Homo sapiens: one gene and its partners. The protein of the gene in region 2 purifies or fractionates together with the protein of the main gene of each other region. This does not show direct contact. Each region holds a gene or a part of one and is shown on either strand. Other genes may lie near its edges.

What was found.
Region 1: the proteins of PLEKHG2 (region 2) and DYNLT2B purify together in Homo sapiens (affinity purification with mass spectrometry; one large-scale study listed by BioGRID and IntAct). This does not show direct contact.
Region 3: the proteins of PLEKHG2 (region 2) and LPP purify together in Homo sapiens (affinity purification with mass spectrometry; one large-scale study listed by BioGRID and IntAct). This does not show direct contact.
Region 4: the proteins of PLEKHG2 (region 2) and DCK purify together in Homo sapiens (affinity purification with mass spectrometry; one large-scale study listed by BioGRID and IntAct). This does not show direct contact.

Annotation. Positions count from the first base shown.
Region 1 is NC_000003.12:196,294,230-196,297,794, forward strand, and holds part of DYNLT2B (dynein light chain Tctex-type protein 2B), read right to left. Parts: intron 1,841-3,565; coding exon 1,777-1,840; intron 1-1,776. UniProt on the Homo sapiens protein: Acts as one of several non-catalytic accessory components of the cytoplasmic dynein 2 complex (dynein-2 complex), a motor protein complex that drives the movement of cargos along microtubules within cilia and flagella in concert with the intraflagellar transport (IFT) system.
Region 2 is NC_000019.10:39,411,218-39,415,498, reverse strand, and holds the start of PLEKHG2 (pleckstrin homology domain-containing family G member 2), read right to left. Parts: upstream 2,831-4,281; 5' UTR 2,087-2,830; intron 1,721-2,086; exon of another isoform or gene 1,608-1,720; intron 1,435-1,607; 5' UTR 1,413-1,434; coding exon 1,304-1,412; intron 508-1,303; coding exon 239-507; intron 161-238; coding exon 60-160; intron 1-59. UniProt on the Homo sapiens protein: May be a transforming oncogene with exchange activity for CDC42. May be a guanine-nucleotide exchange factor (GEF) for RAC1 and CDC42. Activated by the binding to subunits beta and gamma of the heterotrimeric guanine nucleotide-binding protein (G protein).
Region 3 is NC_000003.12:188,157,099-188,160,663, forward strand, and holds part of LPP (lipoma-preferred partner), read left to right. Parts: intron 1-3,565. UniProt on the Homo sapiens protein: May play a structural role at sites of cell adhesion in maintaining cell shape and motility. In addition to these structural functions, it may also be implicated in signaling events and activation of gene transcription.
Region 4 is NC_000004.12:71,000,123-71,003,687, reverse strand, and holds part of DCK (deoxycytidine kinase), read right to left. Parts: intron 1-3,565. UniProt on the Homo sapiens protein: Phosphorylates the deoxyribonucleosides deoxycytidine, deoxyguanosine and deoxyadenosine. Has broad substrate specificity, and does not display selectivity based on the chirality of the substrate.

The DNA of each region.
Region 1 (3,565 bases), on a different chromosome or scaffold from region 2:
AATCCCAGCTACTCGGAAGGCTGAGGCAGGACACTTCAACCCGGGAGGTGGAGGTTGTGGTGAGCTGAGATTGTGCCATTGCACTCCATCCTGGGCAACAAGAGCAAAATTCTGTCTCAAAAAATAATAAAAATAAAAATAAAACCTTGGTGAGACCATAGAATTTTAGAGCTAAAAGCTACCTTAAAATCATCTACATAAGCAGTGTCCATATCTGGCAGTCAGCAGAATCATGGGGAACTTTTTAAATATTCTGATTCACTGATCTAACCCCTGGCCTATTTGATCAGAATCTATTTGAATAGGGACCCAGCGTCTATATTTTAAACAACTTCCCAGATGATCCTTAGGCAGTCACAGCCAGTCTTTGGGAAAATGTACTTCAGCTTCCTAATGTCACTGATACAATGTGAGAAAAATCCAATGACTTACCTGAAGTCATTCAATTAGAAAGTGACAGAACTGGAGATGGAATCCCCCTCTTATTTCTTTTTACTTTTTTCTTTTTTCTTTTTTTAATTTTTGAGACAGAGTCTTGCTCTGCTGCCCAGGCTGGAATGCAGTGGTGCGATCTCAGCTCACTGGAACCTCCGCCACCAGGTTCAAGCAATTCTCCTGCCTCAGCCTCCCAAGTAGCTGGGATTACAGGCGTGCACCACCACACCCGGCTAATTTTTTGTGTGTGTGTTTTTAGCAGAGAAGAGGTTTCACAATGTTGGCCAGGCTGCTCTCAAACTCTTGACCTCAAGTGATCCACATGCCTCGGCCTCCCAAAGTGCTGAGATTACAAGCGTGAGCCACCCCACCTGGCCTCACTCTCTTAATTTACTCAATCTAGTTTCTGTTCTACTCTAACTCTGACTCTATGTATTCACAACCTGGGAGTAGACGAATAGAGGATGCAATCCTTTCTGGAGTAAATATAAAATAATAACTTCAATGAAACCTCTTTTATGTGTGTGTGTGTGTCACCCAGGCTGGAATACAGTGGCACAATCTCAGCTCACTGCAACCTCTGCCTCCGGGGTTCAAGCGATTCTCCTGCCTCAGCCTCCTGAGTAGCTGGGATTACAGGTGCCCGCCACCATGCTCGGCTAATTTTTATATTTTTAGTAGAGACAGGCTTTCACCATGTTGGCCAGGCTGGTCTTGAACTCCTGACCTCAGGTGATCCGCCCTCCTTGGCCTCCCAAAGTGCTGGGATTATAGGCATGAGCCACCGCGCCTGGCCTGAAACATCTTTTTAAAGATTCCTCTTTATTTTTGCTTAATTTTAATAAATGGCTTTAAGATAAAGTAATAAATTTTACTACTAAAAAAAAATGACCTTTGCTCATGGAATCCCTGCCATCCACATTTGTTTGCAACTTAGCAAAGTGTGATTGGTTCAAATGAACAAATAAGTGATTTTAAAATTTTAGTTATAAATTATTACTTTAATAAGGATTATCAGGATTGAGTTTTAGAACACTGATTTATGGAGGAAGTGGCTAAAAATAATGTTTAAATAATATGCTAACTAAATAATATGCTATTCAGAAATTCAAACCCATGAAAAATTATGTCATATGTAAACATGTAAGTTTCCTTGCCTATAAGCAGCACTCTAGGTTTCTGCTTTAGTAACACAAAAACTAACAGTAAAATCATTTCATTCACAAGTCAAAGATGAATGACTAAGACAGCAGTGTCTTTCCATCCCAATCAACAGTAAATAGTTTGATTTGCGGTGCCCACGTTCTTAGAAAGGGAAAAGAGGTTTCCAAATACACTTACATTCATGAAAACATCATGAGTATAGTTGTCAGTGTCAGCATCCCAGAAACAGCGAGAAGCCATGCTAAAAAATCCAAGAATGAAGAATTATCAACAATCTAACAAGGACCTAAACGACACATATCTGCCACGAGAAACAGTGTTCCTTAATACATTCTCATAGATCTGTACTTCCAAACCTTTCACAGGTAGGTACCCACAGAGTATTGTATTTGTACCAGAGAGTATACTGGGTAAACCGGAGAAACTAGAGTCAGATGAAGCTGCTTGCAACTAGAGGTGACCAGCCAGGTACTCTGACAGCCTCAGACCCTACCTGATGGCTACAGGGATCAATACTAGAGATTTGTGTGTGACTTTTAATGAGCTCAGCTCCTGCACAATAACAGGACGAGGAAGGCACAGAAAGAGCCCAACAGATTTAGTCCAACCTGATCATTTTATAGAGTCCCAGAAAAAGGAGCAAACTCTGAACTAGAATTCAGTCTTCTAACGAATTATAACTCCAAAAATATCTCTACAGAATGCTAAACTACCTTGAAATTGGCTATTCTCCTCTCTGCAATTCTTGGATAAGAAAAAAATATTAGTCAAAATAAAAGCCAATTAAAAATGGAAACAACTTAAATGCCCAATAGGACTGGATTGGTAAATGAAATTATGGTATTTCTCAGGATCTGGGAGAATTTTTTAAAAAAAGAAAAAAGAAATAATGATGTTTTCTGGCAATGAAATTCTATGTAGACCTTAAAGAAAAGTTTTGCAAGACACAGTGACGTGTCCCTGTAGTCCCAGCAACTCAGGAGGCTGAGACAGGGAGTATCATTTGAGCCCAGGAGTTCAGGGATGTAGTATGTGAAGATCACACCTGTGAACAGCCACTGCACTTCAGCCTGGGAGACACAGCAGGACCCTGGCTCTTAAAAAAAAAACAATTCTGCACTTTGGGAGGCCAAGGCGGGCAGATCACGAGGTCGGGGGATCGAGACCATCCTGGCTAACACGGTGAAACCCCATCTCTACTAAAAATACAAAAAATTAGCCAGGCGTGGCGGCAGGCACCAGTAGTCCCAGCTACTCAGGAGGCTGGTGTGAACCTGGGAGGCGGAGCTTGCAGTGACCTGAGATAGCACCACTGCACTCCAGCCTGGGAGACACAGCAGGACCCTGGCTCTTAAAAAAAAAATTCCAAGAACATGAAAAGCTATTCACAATATAATGTTGAGTGAAAAAAATAGGCTGGGCATGGTGGCTCACACCTGTAATCCCAGCACTTTGGGAGGCTGAGGTGGGCGAATCACCTGAGGTCAGGAGTTCGAGACCAGCCTGCCCAACATGGTGAAACCCCATCTCTACTAAAAATACAAAAATTGGCTGGGCATCGTGGCACACGCCTGTAATCCCAGCTACTCGGGAGGCTGAGGCAGGAGAATCACTTGAACCCAGGAGGTGGAGGCTGCAGTGAGCCAAGATTGTGCCACTGCACTCCAGCCTTGGCGACAGAGTGAGACTCTGTCTCAAAAACTAATAATAAATAATAATAATAAGTGAAAAAAAAATTACAAATGTTTTACATTTCTATTAAACGTATGTGTATGATTTATCATGCAAACACTTATTGAGCACTTACTTTGTGCCATTCACTAGTCTAAGTGTTTTACGTGTATTAACTCACTGAATCCTATGAGGTACTATAATTTTACCCATTTAGTGAATGTGACAAATGAGGATTAGAGAAATTAAGTGTACAAGGTCATACAACTAGGTAACAAAGCTTGGCTTTGCACCC
Region 2 (4,281 bases):
ATTAGGAAATAGACCCTCCAACCAATCAATGCCCCCTGCCTGTCCCCCCTGCCCCTGACCTGCTGAACTCGTAGATGTCCTCAATGTTGGCAAACAGCGTGCCCACCTGCTCCACGCTCAGCCCCAGGACCCCGCCGTCCAGCAGAGGGCCCAGGTAGTCCTGTTGGGATGACTGGGGTTATGGGGGCCAAGGGGCTGGCCTGGGTACCCACTGCCCTCTGGTGTCTGCCCGCCTTACCTCCACGATGCTGCGGAGGTCCCTGACATAGGCCCGTTCTGTCTCCACGATCTCCCGGGCCACACGCTCCAGCCTTGAGGGTCTGGCTGAACCTGGGATCCCCACCGGAGAGAGATGTAGGCGGATGGGAGGCCCTGGAAGGGGCTCTGGCCTGGAGGCTGAGCAGGCTGGAGTGGGCCCAGGGGCTGGATCCCCCTCAGAGCCCACTGTGCTCAGGGATGTGGAGCTCCCAGAACCTCGGGGGGAGGCCATGGTGGGGGCTGCAGGAGCTGCTGGGGTGTGGAACAGGAGGTCAGAGAAATCTCCCCATGCACGGACTTCCACAGCCTTTCATGCGTTCAGCCCACACCCTCACCCACACCTGTCCAACAGCTTTCCCACAGGCTCCTTCCTCCTCTCCCCACTGCCCTGTCTTGGTCCAGTCCCATCCTCTCCCATCAGGGTCCTCTCTGGACTTCTGGCCTCCATTTCTCTAATCCACCTCCATGAATCAGCTAGGTAGACATTTATTAATTTGTCTATCTGACTGTATTACTCCCGTGAGTGTAACCCCTTCATGCCCCTGGGGATAAAGTCCAAACTCCTCAGATCCACAGGGCACTGGGCAATGTGGCCAACACAGATCCCTCTAGCCAGTTCTCTTCCCACAGCCACCCCTCTTCTTACACTCTGGATGCCAGTGACACTCAACTTCTTTCAGTCACTTACATGCAGCCTTTTCTCACCGCTGGGCCTTTGCACATGCTGTTCCTTGCATGTAGAATACTCTTCCTTGTCTTTGCGCAACTCCTTCCCCCTAATCTTCCACTTCCCAGTTGAGATGTTCCCACCTCCAGGAACCTTCCCCTGACCTTCCGAGCTCAGAGGATCCACGATCACAGCCCTGACCACTCTGCCCAGCGCTGCCCCCTCTGGCCTGTCATTGCCTGGGGATGGGCCCGCCTTCCCCACCAGACTCGGAGCTTTGTGCGAGTTGGCCTGGGGTTGTCTCCATCACCCTGCCTTGACAGCATTGCCAAGGAATAAAAGCCCCACAGGCTCCGCCGCCCCTGCCTCTAGGCTCACCTGTCCGAGTCTCACACACGGTGCCACAGTCACACACTTCACCTCTTCGGCCACACCCGAGGCTTGGGCTAGGTTTGGAGAGGCTCAGTCCTTGGGCTCCCTCAGGCATGGCTGAGCGGCCCAGCAGAGTCCTGCAGAAAGAGCCCCTTCTTGGATATCAGGACCCCATGGGCCTCTCCGCCGCCCAGACTCACAGATGGGGGCTGGGAATTAGGAGCGTGGTGTAAATCCAGGGAGGGGCCCCTGGGAGTAACTAATGGGGGAGGCACAAAGTGACAGAAAGAAGGGGACAAGGAGAGAGAACCTGGCGAAAAAGATGGAAAGGCTGAGACAAAGAAGAGTGAGCGGAGCAGGAGGCGCAGAAGCTGCGAGTCCCGTTTGTCTGGGGCCGGAGGCTTAGGGATCCTGGGAACGTTTGGGCTCCAGCTGGAGCGGAGGGCGAGGGGCAGGGCTGGGAAAAGCCGTGGGCGGGAGGCCGCGGGGTCCCAGGGGAGGGCGGAGGCTGGGGGACCGGATGCCAGGGTCCTGCAGACGGCTCCCTCCCCCGCCGAGGGCTGCGCGCTGGGGCGCTGGCCCCGAGCCCTCGCACCCCCTCCGGCCGGTCTCTCCGAACCCCGATCGCCGTCCCCACAGCCACAGCCTCCCCAGCGCCTTCCCACACCCCTCCAGCCCCCAACTCCCGCCGGCGCCTCGGCTCGCCCCCCGCCGGCACGCCCCCTCATTGTTCAGCAGTGGCGCCGCCCCCTCCCCCAGTCCGCCTGGGCCCCTCGCCTCCCCCCTCACCTCCCGGGGAGCCTCCAGCCCCGGCTCGAGGCAGCCCGGCTCCTGCGCGACCCCGACGCGGTCCCCAGGGAGGTGCGGAGCCCAGACTCAGGGGCGTGAACTTCGGGCTCTCAGGCTCCAGGAATAGAATCTGGGGTCTCTCGGAGACTGGGGTCCCGCAGTCGGAATTTCTCAGTGTTCTACGTAGGGGATGCTAGGAGCCTCGACTCTGGAGTCTCAGATGGCGGCGCTGGGGACCCACATTCCTAAGTCTTCTAGGTAGGGCCGTGGGGTGGGGGATGGATTTCTGAGTTCCCCTAATTCTAGGGGCAGGAATGAAACTCCCTCCAGGTGGGAGCACAGGGGGGTCCCAAAGTCCTGGGTCCCCTTGAAGCGATGGCCGCTGCAGCCCGAAACTGGTTGGGGCGCTTAGAAGTCCGGATCTCAAGTTCCTCCAACGCGGGGTCTTGGGATCGGAGCCCTGGAGGGAGTCTGCGGTCCTGGATCCTGAGTTCTTGAAACGGGGATACGGGGCGCTCGGCCTCCAGGGTCTCGCGGGGTGACGTCCGGGCTCCCGGCTGCTCCAGGAGGGGGCGCTGCGCACCTGGATGGCTCAAGTCCTCCAGCCTGGGCGCCGGGGTCTGGACCTCGGGGTCTCTCAGGATGCGGTGCAGAAATTCCGGACGCCCGGGTCCGAGCCTCTGGACCCCTCGGGCTCCCGGCTGGGTGTCACGGGGCTCGTGTGACGGCGGCGGCGCCACATCTGGGGCGGGAGAGTCCGATCCCAGCTGTGAGGCGGGGGGCGGTCGCCCGGGGCTTCCCCTCCCCCGCTGTCGCCGGGGCTCACATCCTGTTCCCGCCTGCGGGGGGGGGAGGGGCTGCCTTCCGGCCGACCCGCCAGCGAAGGGTTAAGACCCCACCCCTTGTTTTGAATATTCATGAGGAGGCGTGTCCTTCTGGTAGGCGACACCCCTACATTCCAAACGCCTCGCGGACTTTTCCCTTTTACAGCAAGGGCCGCGAGGCGTGAGAATCCGGAACTGGCAATGCACTGTCTCCTATTGGTCAATGCAAAATGTTTAATTTGCATATATAACACAAGGCGGGGCCCTCCGGTGAGGTCACGTGGCTATGAACCACTGAAGAAGACCCCGGCGCAGGGGTGCGGCCGGAGCTCCAGTGGCGCAATCGGTTAGCGCGCGGTACTTATATGACAGTGCGAGCGGAGCAATGCCGAGGTTGTGAGTTCGATCCTCACCTGGAGCACTTTTTTTCCCCATCAGTTTTTATAAACTTACACATCTAATAAACCAACCAAAACATCTACATCACTTAGATGAATGAACGTTTCTATCTTTTGAATTATTGGGCTCAAAAGACTCCTAGGGCTTTGGCGACGGTCCTTTGGGTGTTCTGTATTGTAGGGAGGTGCCGTTTCCGTCCCAGCCACCAGGTGGGGGTATCGTCTCTTATTAGATGCTCTGGGCATGGAATTGTGTGCAAACAGTTTGACTTCTGTAGAGATGTGGGTCCTCGGCAAACTGTATATGACTCTGCCTCCTCTGTATTTCTCTGTCTTTTTAATGCCTCCTTTACAGATGAACATAGCTATCTGTCTTGGAGTTTTCGACCTCTGTTGAAAAGGAAAACTATGTTTTTGAGTCGACTTGTTTTTTCAATAAATATTGAACATTCACTATGCCTGGCTTCCTTTAGCTGTGTGTAATACAGCAGTGAACAAGTAGTCCCTGCCCCTGAGGACGCGACATTCTAGTGGGGAGGCAGATTGCTGTCAACATAAGAATTAAGTACATTTTAATGTTAGGTGGTGATGATAAATGTCATGGAAAAAGTCGAGCAAGGTAGGGAGGATGGGGTAGTTGGAGGTGGGGTGTGGATTGCAACAGCAGTGGTCAGGGAGGATCTCACAGAGAAGGCAACTTTTGAGCAGAGACATGAAGGAGGGGAGTGAGCCATGGGGACACCAGGGGAGTGTTCAGGCAGAGGGAACAGCTAGTGCAAAGCTCCTATGGATGAAGCAGACCAGACTTGGTAGAGCAGCTAGGAGGCCAGTGTGGCTGGAGCAGAGTGGCCAAGGGGGAGGGTAAGCGATGGGTGCCAGATTGTGTGGGCTGTGGGGAGGACTTCGGACTTTGACTTTTATGTGACCTGACTCAGGTCTCATAACAGGCTTCCTTTGGTTGTCTCGTGGGGGA
Region 3 (3,565 bases), on a different chromosome or scaffold from region 2:
TAATGGCACATCTTATAGTTGATGGCTTAAATCTGATAAAATTGTTCATCATGTCGTTTATGAATGTACAGTGCTTTGCACTTTATAAAACACTTTCCAATCAGATACTCCATTTGAATCTCAAAGGTCCCCTGAGAATGAGGCCTGCTGCTGCTGTCACCTTTATTTTAACCCTTGCCCAAGGTCATATAGCTAATTAGGGATGTGTTCAAAATTACAACCCAGAACTTTTGCTTCTTGGTGGTGACGTGTGACTTTACCCTGCTGTTGAGCCAGTCTGGGTTAATTGGGAATGGGGCAAGAGTTAGATCGGATTTGATTTCAGAACTATGCTGAAGATGCTGGATGATGGGGATTTTGTACACGGGTAGAGTGTAACTCATAAGAACTGTGTAGCCCCCTTAGCACAGATATTTGCTGCATTAAGCAGAAAAAAGACAGGGAGATAGAAAATGGCAGGTAGCAGGTAAAACCCGGGGTTGGAGCCTGCTTACGGTGAACCAGAAACTGGCTTGGCCCTGAGCGTACAAAGATGAGGTGTACATGGTCCCTGCCTTTGAGGAGCACACAAGTGTGTGGTGTGTGTGAGGGGGAGGGAAAAAGGTGGAGTGGGGCATGTCCGTGTATTAAGTGCTTTTACAGGGTAAGTTTTGGCTGCTCTTCACTGAGAAGGCTCACCCTCAGGGAAACCACTATAGAGAGGGGGGTGTCTGAGCTGAACCTCTAGGAATGAGTAGGAGTTGTCCAGGTGGAAGAAGGACAGGTGAGAGAAGGACCTATTAGCAAGATAGTAGCAGATGCAGAAGCAGGGAGAAGCTGCTTTATTCTCCAGGCTGTGTTTTGAAAGGCCAGCCATGAAGAGGACCATGGAAAATGGAGAAAGAAGAGGGCCTTTACTTTTTAATAAGTAAGGTTTAAATTAATCTCGATAGGGGCCGTTAAGTGGTTCTGTAGAGATTCACAGGAGAATAAGGCTGGGTAGGGTCTCTAGCGTCATCTCTGTGGGAGTAGTTATTTGGATGGTAATGCAGGAGGCATAGTACCACTTTTAGTCTGAGTGAACCTGGGACTTTGACCCTGGGCCGCGATTAGAGGATCCAAGCTGAGTATGTTCATTGGTGGGTGGGACTTTTCCTGGAATCTGGCTTTGGAGGGCTGTGCTTTGCTAGAAGAAACTTAGTAGAGTGAGGAAGGGGAAGATATAATCATGTTGATGCATGCAGGAAGCTAGTATCTGGGTGAAAATCTGTTGGCTTGAGGGAACATATGAGGCGGAGAACCTGAGGGCAAGGGGAAGGGTGGAAGGATTTCAAGTGTGTTGTGGAAGTCTGCTGTAGGCTGCCTGGAGGCTTGGAGAAAAAGGCTGGTGCATTCTAAATGTTGGTCACATCAGTGAGATTGGTAGGTGGATAGGTAGCTGTAGGTAGTGTAGGGATTAATGTTTGGAAGCAGGTAAACCACAGAGTTGAGGCTGGAAAATGTTTCCTTTCCTATCATTCTTTTTTAATAGTAATATAATTTTGAAATATTTTCAAATGCTTACCACCTGTTATGTAATTATCATATTGATTCATTAAAGTAGGTTTTTTGATTACCAGTCTCATTTTGCAGATGAGAAAATGAATTTGGTGAAATAAGGTTACACAACTACCAGGAGGCATTCAAACTTCTGCCTCATTCTTATAGCCTCTTCACCACTCTTTTCTATGCCCACATGCATGAAAAGCTCAAATCGACATTGCTTGTCTGTGTTCTTCCCTGGAATTTAATTCAGCCCACATTCGTGGGGCCCTAGTGGGGTCACAATTGAGGATTCACATGGACAAACGGGCTTCTCAGTCCCACACTGGTGCTGTTCTAGCCCCTTTTTCTCTCTTAAGATGCTACCTTGGGTGTCGTCTCTCCCCAAACCTAACTGGAAAGGACTAAGCCTCTCTAGCAAATCATCTGCCTCTTTCAACAGAGCTCGCTTCCCCAGTCCCTTGTTGTGTTAAGAATGTGATTTATTCTTGTAGAGAGGCAGTTAGGGTCATAAAGTAACAGAGTGGGGAAGTGACAGTCTTGAACTCAGTCATTACCTTTGATCTCACGGCTCCGGTAACGGTGCTATATGTTCTCTGGTGCTGAACCATATAGCTTCTGCGTCCTCTAGGAAAGCTTTCTGGCTCAGGGCTCTGAGGGAACACCTACAATCCTTCCTATCACCTACCTGAGTCAGATGGGTCATCTACATTTTGGCCACTCACAGATAAAAGCATTAATAATCTGTTTATTGTGTTGTGAGAGGAGACAGACCCCAGGATGTTCAGTAGCTGTTTGGTGAATGAACAATGTTTATGGACACAAATAAGCATGCATCACCACTTCATCTTACATATTTGTGTGTCTGCCTCCTCTCCACTTTAAAATAAGCTGCTTGAGGATTGCAGTGATGTCTGCTTGTTGATGGCTGTATTCCCAATGCCCAGAAGAATGCCTGACACATGGTAGGCACTCCAGAAATACTTGCTTGATGAAGAGAGGGAGTAAAATAGTTCACTGCAGCCACAGGATAGCAATCATGGGGGAGCGGGACTGTTTTTACTGCCCCAGAACCTTGAGCCAGTTGTTGCTGGCACAGGTGGCATTGGGCAGTCCTGCCAGCAGAGTGAAGATTGAGGGACTGGGAGTGTAGAGCTGAGGGTTGTGAGATTAACTATGCCAAGGTTAATTGCAGTTGCAACTGCTCTTTCACTTTTCCCTCACACAGACAGGTGGTCTGGAACAGTCCTCTGTTTTCTTCTCTTTTGAGACAGAGTATTTTTTTGTTTGTTTGTTTGGTTTGTTTGTTTTGAGACACAGTCACACTTTGTCACACAAGCTGGAGTGCAGTGGCGCAATCTTGGCTCACTGCAACCTCCACCCCCTGGGTTCAAGTGATTCTCCTGCCTCAGCCTCCCAAGTAGCTGGGATTACAGGTGCCCGCCACCACTCCCGGCTAATTTTTGTATTTTTAATAGAGACGGAGTTTCACCATGTTGGCCAGGCGGTCTTGAACTCCTGACCTCGTGATCCACCTGCCTTGGTCTCCCAAAGTGCTGGGATTACAGGCGTGAGCCACCACGCTCAGCCTTGAGATGGAGTTTTACTCTTGTTGCCCAGGCTGTAGTGCAATGGCCCGATCTCGGCTCACTGCAACCTCCGCCTCCCAGGTTCCAGCGATTCTCCTACCTCAGCCTCCCAAGTAGCTGGGATTACAGGTGCCTGCTGGCACGCCTGGCTAATTTTTGTATTTTTGTGGAGATGGGGTTTCACCATGTTGGCCAGGCTGGTCTTGAACTCCTGACCTCAGGTGATCCGCTGGCCTTGGCCTCCCAAAGTGCTGGGATTACAGGAGTGAACCACTGTGCCCAGCCCTCTGTTTTCTTAATCCATGCCTTTTCTTATGCTGTTTTCTCTACCTGGAGTTTCCAGCCTTTCTGTCTCTGCCTGTTGTAAACCTGTGATTCTAGGATCAATATCAAAATCTACCTTGTGCCATGAAGCAATTTCCAGACTCCTTAACCCTTCCAACCCACACGTATCT
Region 4 (3,565 bases), on a different chromosome or scaffold from region 2:
GCGTGAAGATAAGATTAGAGAAAACAGAATGAAAAGGAACAAACAAAGCCTCCCAAGAAATATGGGACTATGTGAAAAGACCAAACCTACGTTTGACTGGTATACCTGAAACTGACGAATGGAACCAAGTTGGAAAACACATTTCAGGATTATTATCCAGGAGAACTTCCCCAACCTAGCAAGACAGGCCAACATTCAAATCCAGGAAATACAGAAAACATCACAAAGATGCCCTTGAGAAGAGCAACGCCAAGACACATAATCGTCAGATTCACCAAGGTTAAAATGAGGGAAAAAATGTTAAGCGCAGCCAGAGAGAAAGGTCGGGTTACCCACAAAGGGAAGCCCATCAGACTAACAGCAGATCTCTCGGCAGAAACCCTACAAGCCAGAAGAGAGTGGGGACTAACATTCAACATTCTTAAAGAAAAGAATTTTCAACCCAGAATTTCATAACCAGTCAAACTAAGCTTCATAAGTGAAGGAGAAATAAAATCCTTTACAGACAGGCAAATGTAGAGGGATTTTATCACCACAAGGCCTGCCTTACAAGAGCTCCTGAAGGAAGCATTAAATATGGAAAGGAAAAACCGGTACCAGCCACTGCAAAAACATACCAAAATGTAAAGACCATCGACACTATGAAGAAACTGCATCAACTAACAGGCAAAATAACCAGCTAGCATCATAATAACAGGATCAAATTCACACATAACAATATTAACCTTAAATGTAAATGGGCTAAATGCCCCAGTTGAAAGACACAGAGTGGCAAATTAGACAGAGTTAAGACCCATCAGTGTGCGGTATTCAGGAGTCGCATCTCACATGCAAAGACACACAAAGGCTCAAAATAAAGGGATGGAGGAAGATTTACCAAGCAAATGGAAAGCAAAAAAAAGGCAGGGGTTGCAATCCTAGTCTCAGATAAAACAGACTTTAAATCAATAAGCATGAAAAAAAGACAAAGGGCATTACATAATGGTAAAGGGTTCAATGCAACAACAAGAGCTAACTATCCTAAATAGATATGCACCCAATACAGGAGCACCCAGATTCAAAATGCAAGTTCTTAGAAACCCACAAAGAGACCTAGACTCCCACATAATAACAGTGGGAGACTTTAACACCCCACTGTCAATATTAGATCAACAAGACAGAAAATTAACAAGGATATTCAGGACTTGAACTCAGCTCTGGACCAAGCAGACCTGAAAGACATCTAGAGAACTCTCCACCCCAAATCAACAGAATATACATTATTCTCAGTACCACAGTGCACTTACTCTAAAATTGACCACATAATTGGAAGTAAAACATTCCTCAGCAAATGCAAAAGAATGGAAATCATAACAGTCTGTCAGACCACAGTGCAATCAAATTAGAACTCAGGATTAAGAAACTCACTCAAAACTGCACAACTACATGGAAACTGAACAACTCCTGAATGACTACCGGGTAAATAACGAAATTAGGGCAGAAATAAATAAGTTCTTTGCAACCAATGAGAACAAAGACATAACGTACCACAATCTCTGGGACACAGCTAAAGTAGTGTTTAGAGGGAAATTTATAGCACTAAGTGCCCACATGAGAAAGCAGGAAAGATCTAAAATCGACACCCTAACATCACAATTAAAAGAACTAGAGAAGCAAGAGCAAACAAATTCAAAAGCTAGCAGAACACAAGAAATAACTAAGATCAGAGCAGAACTGAAGGAGATAGAGACACGAAAAACTCTTCAAAAAATCAATGAATCCAGAAGCTGGTTCTTCGAAAAGATTAACAAAATAGATAGACCACTAGCCAGAATAATAAAGAAGAAAAGCGGGAAGAATCAAATAGACACAATAAAGGATCACCACTGATCCCACAGAAATACAAACTACCATCAGAGAACACTATAAACACCTCCACGCAAATAAACTAGAAAATCTGGAAGAAATGGATAAACTCCTGGACACATACGCCCTCCCAAGATTAAACCAGGAAGAACTCTGGTTTAATGAACAGACCAATAAAAAGTTCTGAAATTGAGGCAATAATATCCTACCAACCAAAAAAAAGCCCAGGACCAGATGGATTCACAGCTGAATTCTACCACAGGTAGAAAGAGGAACTGGTACTATTCCTTCTGAAACTTCCAAACAATAGAAAAAGAGGGACTCCTCCCTAACTCATTTTTTGAGGCCAGCATCACCCTAATACAAAAACCTGGCAGAGACACAACAAAAAAAAGAAAATGTCAGGCCAATATCCCTGATGAACATCGATGCGAAAATCCTCAATAAAATACTGGCAAACCGAATCCAGTAGCACATTAAAAAGCTCATCTACCACGATCAAGTCGGCTTCATCCCTGGGATGCAGGGCTGGTTCAACATACTCAAATCAATAAAACATAATCTATCACATAAACAGAACCAATGACAAAAACCGCATGATTATCTCAATAGATGCAAAAAAGGCCTTCAATAAAATTCAACATCCCTTCATGCTAAAAACTCTCAATAAACTAGGTATTGATGAAATGTATCTCAAAATAAGAGCTATTTATGACAAACCCACAGCCGATACCATTCCCTTCAAAAATCGGCACAGGATAAGGATGCCCTCTCTCACCTCTCCTATTCAACATAGTATTGGAAGGTCTGGCCAGGGCAATCAGGCAAGAGAAAGAAATAAAGGGGATTCAGATAGGAAGAGGGGAAGTCAAATTATCTCTGTTTGCAGATGATGACTGTATATTTAGAAAACCCCATCATCTCAGCCCATAATCCCTTATGGTGACAAGCAACTTCAGTAAAGTCTCAGGATACAAAATCAATGGGCAAAAATCACAAGCATTCCTATACACCACTAACAGACAGAGAACCAAATCATGAGTGAATTCCCATTCACAATTGCTACAAAGAGAATAAAATACCTAGGAATACAACTTACAACGGATGTGAAGGACCTCTTCAAGGAGAACTACAAACCACTGCTCAAGGAAAGAAGAGAGGACACAAACAAATGGTAAAACATTCCATGCTCATAGATAGGAAAAATCAATATTGTGAAAATGGCCATACTGCCCAAAGTAATTTACAGATTCAATGCTATTCCCATCAAGCTACCATTGACTTTCTTCACAGAATTAGAAAAAACTACCTTAAATTTCATATGGAACCAAAAAAGAGCCCGTATAGCCAAGACAATCCTAAGCAAAAAGAACAAGGCTTGAGGCCTCATGCTACCTGACTTCAAACTATACTACAAGGCTACAGTAACCAAAACGGCATGGTATTGTACCAAAACAGAGCTATAGACCAATGGAACAGAACAGAGCCCTCAGAAATAATACCACACGTCTACAACCATCTGATCTTTGACAAACCTGACAAAAACAAGCAATGGGGAAAGGATTCCCTATTTAATAAATGGTGCTGGGAAAACTGGCTAGCCATATGCAGAAAACGGAAACTGGACCCCTTCCTTACACCTTATACAAAAATTAATTCAAGATGGATTAAAGATTTAAACATAAGACCTAAAATCATAAAAACTCTGAAGAAAACATAG